Regions from separate parts of the Homo sapiens genome. Here regions 1, 2 and 3 are each linked to region 4. Evidence: fine-mapped expression QTL. A gene starts in region 4. Each other region holds a variant in brackets. All regions are shown on one strand. Distances are from middle to middle.

The links. PIP is the estimated chance that this variant, and not a neighbour inherited with it, causes the effect.
Region 1: its variant is the best candidate, but not a certain one, in a credible set for the expression of CYP4F22 in whole blood (TOPMed, PIP 0.77).
Region 2: its variant is the best candidate, but not a certain one, in a credible set for the expression of CYP4F22 in esophagus mucosa (GTEx, PIP 0.83).
Region 3: its variant is the best candidate, but not a certain one, in a credible set for the expression of CYP4F22 in monocytes (TOPMed, PIP 0.53).

What each region holds. Positions count from the first base shown.
Region 1 is chr19:15,537,637-15,540,338 of GRCh38, reverse strand. It overlaps CYP4F22 (cytochrome P450 family 4 subfamily F member 22), which reads right to left. Exons shown (of 14, transcript NM_173483.4): 6 at 2,677-2,702; 7 at 2,346-2,467. Among named protein-coding and RNA genes, the nearest start is that of CYP4F22, 30 kb to the right of the region's middle. RefSeq lists a silencer at 1,234-1,434. The variant C/T (reference allele first, on the strand shown) is at 985.
Region 2 is chr19:15,528,823-15,531,524 of GRCh38, reverse strand. It overlaps CYP4F22 (cytochrome P450 family 4 subfamily F member 22), which reads right to left. Exons shown (of 14, transcript NM_173483.4): 4 at 1,672-1,816. Among named protein-coding and RNA genes, the nearest start is that of CYP4F22, 22 kb to the right of the region's middle. The variant C/T (reference allele first, on the strand shown) is at 1,364.
Region 3 is chr19:15,482,677-15,485,288 of GRCh38, reverse strand. No RefSeq gene overlaps it. Among named protein-coding and RNA genes, the nearest start is that of PGLYRP2, 4.5 kb to the right of the region's middle. The variant T/CT (reference allele first, on the strand shown) is at 1,300.
Region 4 is chr19:15,507,442-15,510,143 of GRCh38, reverse strand. CYP4F22 (cytochrome P450 family 4 subfamily F member 22) reads right to left here and starts at 1,619. Exons shown (of 14, transcript NM_173483.4): 1 at 1,561-1,619. RefSeq lists an enhancer at 1,475-1,975.

The sequences.
Region 1 (2,702 bases), 30 kb before region 4:
CCTATATTAACTCTATTTTTAAATTCATTTATTTATTTTTTTAGATAGGGTCTTGCTCTGTCACCTAGGCTGCAGTACAGTGGCACAATCATAGCTCACTGCAGCCTTGAACTCGTGAGCTCAAGTGATCCTCCAGCCTTGGCCTCCCAAAGTGCTGGGTTACAGGTCTGAGCCACCACACCCAGTCTCGGGTATATTTTTGAACAGGCCCAAAGAGGGATAAAGACTTTCAACATAGGCATAGTCATTGTAGCATCACTAAAACTAAATGGTTACACTCCTCAGCATGGGAGAAAATATTTGCAAATTGTCTATCTGATAAGGGATTGGTACCTAAAATAAATAAAGAATTCTTAAAACTTATTTTAAAATGGGCAATGGATATGAATAGGCATTTCTCCAAAGAAGACAGAAATTTCCAATGAGAATGTGAAAAGATACTTAACAGCACTGGTCACCAGAGAAATGCAAATCAAAACCACAATGAGATACTACTTCACCCCACTAAGGTGACTAAAATCAAAACTTATAATAACAAGTGTTGGGCTGCACTCCAGCCTGAGCAACAGAGCAATATCCTATCTCTAAAAAGCAAACAAAACAACAACAACAAAAAAAAGCAAGTGTTAGTGAGTATGTGGAAAAACTGGAGCTCTCATACATCACTGGTTGGGAGAGCAAAATGGTACAACCACTTCATACCATGTTGAAACCCACTGAAATAAAGTTTAGCAGTTCCTCAAAATGTTTAAAATGGAATTACCGTATGACCCAGCAATTCTGCTCCTAGGTATATAGCCAAAAGAATTAAAAATGTATGTTCACACAAAACTTTGTGCATGAATGTTAATAGCAGCATTATTCATAAAGGTCGAAAAGTGGAAACAGTGTCCATCGATGGGTGACTGGATAAACAAAATGTGGTATTATGTGGTAAATGGAACATTATTCATCAATGAAAAGAAATACATAACTGATACATGC[C/T]ACAATATGGATGAGCCTTTAAAACATTATGCTGGGTGAAACAAGCCAGACACAAAAGTCTGTATGATTCCATCCGTGTGAAATATCCATAACAGGCAAATCTATAGAGATAGAAAATAGATTAGTGATTGCCTAGACTTGAAGGAGAAAGGGAAGTGCACGGGTTGCTAAAGTGTATGAAGTTTCTTGGGGTGGGGGAGGATTGATGAAAATATTCTAAAATTGATTATAGTAATGGTTGCACAACTCTGAATATACTAAAAGCAGTTCAGGTGTATTCTTTAAATGAGTAAATGGTATAGTATGTGAATTGTGTCTCAACAAAGCCATTATTTTTTAAAAACTAACAGGTGAAGCAGGCTTGAAGGGAGCTGTCCTCAGTCCTGAAGTGGGCTTGTTTTCATGCACTTATTGCAGTCTGTCGTTTTCTTGTTTGTTTACTTGTTCATGGTTATTACCTGTCTTCCTACTAAAATGGAAGCTCTAGAAAAGCAACATCTTGTCTTTCTTGTTGAATATGGTGTTCCCAGCACCTAGTTCAGGGTTGGCACTTACTAGGCACTCAGTAAATATTTCTTGGATGAATTAATTATTTAATTTCTAAGACAATCTCTGCCTTATCCAACTGGAACGTGCCCCTATAATGCCTAGAGTAACGAAGTCATTAGCTTGTTACTGAGGACCTACTATGTGTTGCAAGTTTTGCATTAATTATCTCCCTTATTCCTTATGTCCCCACTTAGACTATAAACTTCACAGAACTGTGACTGTCTGTTGTTCACCACCCTGTTCTCAGCAGCAATATCATGGTGCCAGGCACGTAGTAGGTGCACAATGAATATTTGATGAATGAATGAATTAATGAAGCAAGGCATTGGTTATTTGATTCATTTACTCAACAAATATTCTCTGAGCATCAACTATGTGCCAGGGCAGTGCTGCATCATTTTATCCTTAAAGCATCTCTCAGAAAGTAAGAGATTGTCATCCTTTTTTTACAAACAAGGAAACTGAGCCTCAGAAAGTGGGGAGGACACTGTCCAAAGACCACATACTCTTCCTAGTGGAATGAAAAAATACTAACATTTACTAAGCACCTACTTTATACCAAGCCATTGATTCACATTATCTCATTTAATTCTCACACAATGACTATGGGGAAGGAATTATGATGCCCATTTTTTTGATTAAAAAAAAAAGTGAAGCTCAGAGAGATGGTCAGTTTCCCGGAAGCACATGGCCCATCCGTGGCAGAGCTCCCATAGGCCAGAGTTGTCTAATGCCTGGGAGTTCCCTTTCTCCTGCCACCATCTTGCTCCTAGAGCAGCTGGCTCCATCTTCCCAAGAAGGGTCACACTCACTCTTGGCAGTTGCTGTTGTAGCTGAAGACACATTTCTGAAGACTGTCCAGGGTCATGAGGCTGATATGCTCAAACATATCAAGGGAGACCGCTGAGCCCTCTGCCAGATGCCGCCATTTAGCCTGGAAGAGAGATACATGGTGACTGTGCATGGAAACCACAGAGAGGGAGTCAGCCTAACAAGGACCCGACTGCGTTTTCACTACAAGCTCATTTTATAGATAAAGTCAGTGAGGGCTCCTGACATCACATGGCTTGCCCATGCATGAGTTGGAGCCTGGACCAGCCTCACTCCCAAGACACCCTCTTCCCTCAAAGCCTTAGGACTCACATGCATAATGTCAGCGCTCTGGTTGA
Region 2 (2,702 bases), 21 kb before region 4:
TGTGGAAGGGGAAGATGGCAGCTTCTTTCACAGCTCCTGGGTGGCAGCCCTGGAGATGGTCCCCAGATGCGTGTTTGTAGAGGCAAAGCTGGGACAGAGATCCTAAAATTCCTGGAATCTCCCACTTTTTTTTTTTTTTTAAGAGACTAAGCCTTGCTCTGTCACCCAGGCTGGAGTACAGCAGTGGTGCAATCATAGCTCACTGCAGCCTCCATCTGCTGGGCTCAAGCAATCCTCTCACCTCAGCCTCCTGAGTAGCTGGGACTGCAGGCATGCACCACAACACCCAGCTAATATTTTTAAATGCTTTTGTACAGATGGGGTCTTGCTAGATTACCCAGGCTGGTCTTAAACTCCTGAGCTCAAGTGATCCTCCCATCTCAGCCACCCAAGTAGCCGAGACTACAGGTGCACATCACTGCCACTGGGTAATTATTTATTTTTTTCGAGAGACAGGGTCTTGCTGTGTTGCCCAGGCTAGTCTCAAACTCCTGGCCTCAAGCAACCCTCCTGCCTCAGCTTCCCAAAGTGTTGGGATTACAGATGTGAACCACCATGCCTGACCTACTGGAGCTCATTGGTTCATTTGAGAGTGAGTTCTCTCAGATGTCCCGATACCTCTGGAGGTGCCCAGGTAATATGGTTTGGCTGTGTCCCATCTAAATTTCATTTTGAATTATAATTCCGATAATCCCTATGTGTCATGCGAGGGATCCGGTGGGGGGTAATTGAATCATGGGGGCGGTTACCCCCATGTTGCTGTTCCCATGATAGTGAATGAGTTCTCACGAGATTTAACGAATTTCCCCCTTTTACTTGGCACTTCTCCTTCCTGCTGCCATGTGAAGAAGGACGTGTTTGCTTCCCCTTCCGCCATGATTGTAAGTTTTCTGAGGCCTCCCCAGCCCTGCGGAACTGTGAGTCAATTAAACCTCTTTCCTTTATAAATTACCCAGTCTAGGGTAGTCCTTCATAGCAGCGTGAGAACTGACTAATACACCAGGTACACAAGGCCACACTGAGGATCCAGAGTCCCGCTCATGAGGAAGATAGAGCTGGACACAGACATACCCAGGTCCAAAGGGTTAGGACTGAGAATAGGTCTGTCTGGGAAGCCAGGGAAAGATTCCTGGAGGAGGCGGCCATTGGAGCTGGGTGTTGAAGGCTGAGCAAGAGCTTGCCAAGCAGACTTGGAAGTCTCACATCTTGGGATAGGTGTGGACTGCACGAGGAAGAAGGAATTCTTCCACATCTCCCTCCCTGCCAGTCAGAGTCAGCCCAAGTGATGACAGCAGGCTGCAGGCTGAGTCACCAAGAGTCCTGGCCATAATGGGAATGTCAGAACCAAATGATGGGCGTGCCA[C/T]GGCCAGGGATTGAGTAACACTTACTTAACAAAACCATAAGGAACAACTGCCTATCCAAACGTGCCTGGCTCTGACTGCCAGATGGATGGACATTCCCTCGAAGTTTCTGGAACTCTTAGTCATTGCCACATCTTTGCCCATACTGTTCTCACAATCTGGATTGCCATGCTTGCTTTGCCAAACTCTTATTCATCCTTCAAAGCCCTATTCAAATGACCCTTCCTCTGGATATCCCACCTGCCTAGAATCTCAGATAGGCTCTGGGAGTTGAGGACTCAACCATAGATCGGAGGCCCAGCCCACGTACCTGAGGCTCCCAAAAGGGGTTTGATGTAATCAGGGTGCACCAGAACCAACAGCGGCAGGACAGGTCCCATCCATACCAAGAGTACATGGTGCATGTTGTCCAGTACCTTCTTCTCATCTTGAAGGCCCGCCTCATTTGGAAGGTACTGCAAGAGGTAAGGGAGGAGCAATGAGGAGGTACCCAGCCCCAGCTTCCCCCACTGCCTTCCTCCTGCCACCTCCTGTAGTCTCAAAACAAGCCCAATAGTGCTACATTATGATTTCAGGCAGTTGGCTGCACCTCCCTGGGCCTCCATTTCCTCATCTGAAAAAATGGAGGAGAATCAACTCTCCCTCTGAGGGCAGTAGAAAGGATTCATGAAATAACAAAGCAAGAGCCCCAGCATGGGCCTGACCCATGGCTGATGTTCAATAGCTAAAAATAGTAGCCAAGTGTAGTGGCTCACATCTGTAATCCCAGCACTTCAGGAGGCCAAGGCAAGCAGATCACCTGAGGTCAGGAGTTCGAGACCAGGCTGGACAACATGGTGAAAGGCCATCTCTACTAAAAATACAAAAATTAGCTGGGCTTGGTGGTGGGCGCCTGTAATCCCAGCTACTCAGGAGACTGAGACAGGAGAATCGCTTGAACCCAGGAGGCAGAGGTTGCAGTGAGCCGAGATCATGCCATTGCACTCCAGCCTGGACGACAAGAGCAAAACTCCACCTCAAAAAAAAAAAATAAAATAAAATAAGAAGATAAAATTAGCCAGGCTTGGTGGGACATGCCTGTAGTCACAGCTACTCATGAGGCTGAGGCAGGAGGACCACCTGAGCTTGGGATGTCAAGGCTGCAGTGAGCTATGATCACCCCACTGCACTCCAACCTGGGTGACAGAGCAAGACCCTGTCTCTTAAAAAATAAAAATAAAAATAGTAATGATAAACACAATAATGATCATGGTTGGCATTTATCAAGTACTTGCTATGTGAGTAATAAGATATTACTACTGTTGCTATCTTTACCACATACAGGTGCCTGCACTGTGTTGG
Region 3 (2,612 bases), 25 kb after region 4:
AGGTCAGGAGTTTGACACCAGCCTGGCCAACATGGTGAATCCCTATCTCTACTAAAAATACAAAAAATTAGGCCAGGCACAGTGGCTCACGCCTGTAATCCCAGCACTTTGGGAGGCCGAGTCGAGTGGATCACGAGGTCAGGAGATTGAGACCATCCTGGCTAACACGGTGAAACCCTGTCTTTACTAAAAAAAAAAAAAAAAAAAAAAATACAAAAAATTAGCCGGGTATAGTGGTGGGCGCCTGTAGTCCCAGCTACTCGGGAGGCTGAGGCAAGAGCATGGCATGAACCAGGGAGGCGGAGCTTGCAGTGAGTGGAGATGGCGCCACTGCACTCCAGCCTGGACGACAGAGCGAGACTCCGTCTCAAAAAAAAAAAAAATAGCCAGGTGTGGTGGCACATGCCTGTAATCCCAGCTACTCAGGAGGCTGAGTCAGGAGAATCGCTTGAACCCAGGAGGCAGAGGTTGCAGTGAGCCGAGATCATGTCATTGCACTTCAGCTTGGTCAACAAGAGCAAAACTCCGTCTGAAAAAAAAAAAAGGCAGCCAGCAGCTATCAGGGCTGCTCTGCCTATGGAGCAGTCATTCTTTATTCCTTCACTTTCCTAATAAACTTGCTTTCACTTTACTCTGTGGACTCACCCTGAATTCTTTCTTGCGCGAGATCCAAGAACCCTCTCTTGGGGTCTGGATCGGGACCCCATTCCTGTAACAGTAGTAGCGAGCGGGGTCTTCATTATTAGCATCATTAGTGCCACCATAGTGAACGCTGTCGACTCTGACGTTGAGCCCAAGCCCAGCCCTGCCCCAAGTTCCTTCTCCTCTGGCCTCATCCCAGCCTTGCTTAAGATCTAGGGCCAGAGGCTCTGCCTATCTGTGCCAATGCTACAACTCATGAGAGCCGGCCCTGCTCCATAATCAGTGGCTACTCTTGTGACCCCTCTAGTCTCTCTGCAGCCTGGAGGGGCCTTGATTTTTTTTTTTTTTTTTTTTTTTGAGACAGAGTTTTGCTTTTGTTGCCCAGGATGGAGTGCAATGGCGCGATCTCAGCTCACCGCAACCTCTGCCTCCCGGGTTCAAGCAATTCTCCTGTCTCAGCCTCCTGAGTAGCTGGGATTACAGGTGCATGCCACCACACCAGCTAATTTTTGTATTTTTAGTAGAGACGGGGTTTCATCATATTGGTCAGGCTGGTCTTGAACTCCTGACCTCAGGTGATCTGCCCGCCTTGGCCTCCCAAAGTGCTGGGATTACAGGCGTGAGCCACCGCACCCGGCCAAGGGGCCTTGATTTATC[T/CT]GACAAGTGGGCCTCCTGAGGTTGAAGGAAACCTGGGGTAGAGGTGATTCATTGTGGGATTTCCAGCCTTCTTTCTGCCTCCCAGGCCCAGCCCAGCCCTGATGCATTGGTGTGTGAGTGCCTGAATGTGGGTGTACATGTGTGTGTTTCAGATCCTGACCCCAAACTGGCCCCACATCATTCATCAGGCTTTTTGTGCATTTAGCAATCCCTCCCTGACACTCACTTGGTCTTGAGTCTGTGCTGGGCACTTCTGGACAGCCCCAAAAACTCAGCATCTCCTAGATTTGGGGAGACAAAACTGGACAAAGAACCTTCCAGCACTGTAAGCACAGCCTAGGTTGAAGGGAAGAACAGCAGGTCAGGGAGCTGGGAGGAGTAAGGGGAGCAAGGGGTAACCACAGAGGCTCCCTGGAGGAAGGGTCCTGCCCCAGAAGGTCACAAATCCTACATAGACCCTAAGGAAAGAGCCTGCCATCCATGACATGCCCCTGGCTTAAAACAAGGCAGTCTCTGCCCCAACTCCAAGCTTTAAAGGGAAATCAGGTGGGGTGCAGTGGCTCACGCCTGTCATCCCAACACTTTGGGAGGCCAAGGCAGGTGGATTACCTGGGGTCATGAGTTCAAGACCAGTTTAGCCAATGTGGTAAAACTCCATCTCCACTAAAAATAGAAAACTTAGCTAGCCTTGGTGGTGCATGCCTGTAGTCCCAGCTACTCTGGAGGCTGAGGCGAGGGAATCACCTGAACCTGGGAAAAAAGAAGAGTTACTAAGAAAATCGTATGGAAGAGGAAGTATGTTTACTATTCATTAAGTAGAAGTGTGTCATCATAAAGGTCTTCATCTTCATCGTCTTCATGTTGAATAGGCTGAGGGGGAGGAAGGGAAGGGGTTGGTCTTGCTGTCTGAGGGGTGGCAGAGGTGGAAGAGGTGGAGGAGGTGGAAGGGGAGAGAGGAGAGGCAGACACACTCCATGTAACTTATTGGAAAAAATCCACGAGCCAGGTGCAGTGGCTCATGCCTGTAATCCCAGCACTTTGGGAGGCTGAGGTGGATGGATCACCTGAGGTCAGGAGTTCGAGATCAGCCTGCCCAACATGGTGAAACCCCATCTCTACTAAAAATACAAAAATTATCCGGGCATAGTGGCAGGTACCTGTAATCCCAGCTACTCAGGAGGCTGAGGCAGGAGAATCGCTTGAACCCAGGAGATGGAAGCTGCAGTGAGCTGAGATTACGCCACTGTACTCCAGCCTGGGGGACAGAATGAGACTCTGCCAGAAAGAAAGAGAAAAAGAGAAAGAAAGAGAAG
Region 4 (2,702 bases):
CAGGAGTGGTGGTGCATGCCTGTAGTCCTCCATACTCAGGAGGCTGAGGTAGGAGGATTGCTTGAACCCAGGAGATCGAGGCTGCAGTGAGCTATGATTATGCCACTGCACTCCTGCCTGGGTGACAAAGTGAGACCCTGTCTCAACAACAACAACAAAAAAAGAAAGAAAGAAAGAAAGAGAGAGAGACAGAGAAAAGAAAGAAAGAAAGAAAGAAAGAAGGAAGGAAAGAAAGAAAGGAAGGAAGGAAGGAAGGAAGGAAGGAAGGAAGGAAGGAAGGAAGGAAGGAGAGATGGGTCCCATTCCCTGAATGCCTCTCAAGTCATCCAAGCCCCTCTGCAGATACCAACCTGGGTCACCGCCAGACACCAGGCCAGAGTTAATGTTACTGTTCAGAAACCCAAGCTGGGCCATTTGGTGATGCCGGGGACATCGGAAAGTGGACTGAGGCTTTGGGGTCAAACAGGGCTTGTTTTTTCAAATCCCAGCTCTCCCACTGGGCACTGGGTATCCACAGGCACAGGCTTCTTCTCTCTGGCCCTCAGTTTCCGTGCCTGTAAAATGAGGGTGGTAGGGAAGATTTGGGGAGGTTCCTTCTCTTTGGGGTTTGGAGTTACACAAGAAGGAGTTTGATGCTGCCAGCCCTGGCTGGGCACAGCTCCAGGACCTAGAAATAAGGGGTGGAGCAAGGGGCACAGGGTAGGAGGAATTTCGGGTACGCAGCCAGCCCTGGCCATCTCCTTTGCCTACAGGGCGGTGAGACTCACAATGAGTGCATGAATGAGCTGTGAGCGGGCAGATGAACCAGGAGAGATGCCCTGAGCCTAGGCCTCTCCAGCCTGCGACTCCCCAGGTGGCCAGCCTCGGCCAACTTGCATACCCAGGCTGGGCCAGGCCCCTGGGAGGCCAGAAAACATCTTCCTTCCAGCATCTATCAGACGAAGATCACCTGGGACCAACCCCAGGACCTCACACAACCCTCAGAGCCAACTCTCGGGGCCAGAAGAACACCGTCTTTTCATAGAGGGGCTCTGCGTCTGGCATGGATGGGCAGAGGGTTCCTGATAGCAGTTGAACCACAAGCCTAACCCCATCGGTTGAATGTACTACAACCTCCCCGTCAAGACAACGTGCAGTGGTGAAATCTCAGGGCGAATCCCCATTCAGCCCCAAAGAGGCGTCCCAGGGCGGGGCTTGAACCCATCTGGGATGTCCTGACTACCAGAGGGGTCTTTTGGAGGCCCCCTGCCCATCACAGATACCCAGAGAAAAGGATGCGCCTAGGACTCCGAGGCGCACACAGAAAAAAAAAAAAAGAAAACAACTCACAAATGCAGCAAACGTCGGGGACACACCCACGTGCCCCTCTCCCCACGAGTGCCCCGGGCATGCAGCCCCGTCCTGGGTCCTGGGGGGGTCCCCGTGGCCGGCTGCGCCCCGCCCGCCGCCGCGCGCAGACCTTCGCCCTTGCCCCGCCAGCACCGAACCGCGCGAGCCTCGGGTTCCAGCGCAGCGCCGCGGCCGCGCTCAGGTTACAGCCCTCACCACGCGCGCACTCACCCGCGGGTCTCAGCCTCCTGCCCTCGATCCGGATCCACCGGCGCCACTACCTGGGATCTGACCGCGCCGTCCCACGGCCCAACCCTTTAACCCCGCCCGGCCGTGCCGAGGGGTCCGCCCCCGGACATCCCGCCCCGGGCTCCCGCAGGGTTCTGGGCGGGGACTCCAGCGCTGCCCCCTAGAAAAGGAGAGAACAAGAAATAGGCGTGTGGAGGGGTGGAGAGCGATGGAAAGAGAGAGAGACTGAGACTGAGATGGAGAGATGAAGAGAGACAGAGACTTGGACACCTAGAAGTCCCAAACCATCAGGCTCCCCGCCCTCCTGCCACTGCTGGGCCGCATTAGCGCCCAAGTCCCGCTCTGGACCACACTCCTCCCACACCAACACCCCCCATGGCCCTTACTTCCAGGTTTGCTCCCAAGCTTGGACAGCGATCTCTAAACCATCACCCCCTGGGGCCCCACTGACCCCCCCGAGAAGCCTCCTCTGGGGCCCTCAGGAATTCTCTGGCTCCACCAGCCCTTGGGAACCAGCCCTTCCCCTCTCTCTGGATCCTGGGCCTAAGCTTCCCCGGCACCCACCCCTGGAGGCTCTGCAGCCTCTTCCTCCAGGAAGACCTCCAACCTCAACAAGCAGCACCAGACTGGTTCTGCTCCCCGCCAACCCGCCCTCCGCCACTCCTCCCCACCCACTGCCAGACACCTTGACCCTCTGACCAGGATGTTGTCCTTGGCCAACCCGTCTACTCCAGATGTGTGGAGACAGAGTCAGCTCCGCCTCTGGATGTGTCTGTCCTCCGGAGTCGGTGGGTGGATGTGTGGCTGACCTTAGCACGTGGGCAGACAGATGAGAAGACAAGAATCTCCACTTGCCCCAGCAGGTGGTAAACTTAGAAGACTTCCTTATCCCTCTTTTTTCTAAGAATACGCTCTCATTTGGTGCTGGGCCCTTGGAAAGAGGGCGTGGGAGGTGTGGGGCATGTCTCCTGGTGAAGAAGAGGAGACACAAGTAATTGAAGTTTTGCTGCTTGGAGGAGGCAGACATGAGGTCAGGGAAGGCGACGTGGAGGATGTGACACTTGAGCTGGGACTGCATGGAGAGGTTGGATTTCAACAAGTGCAGGAGAGGGGGTAGAGCTCAA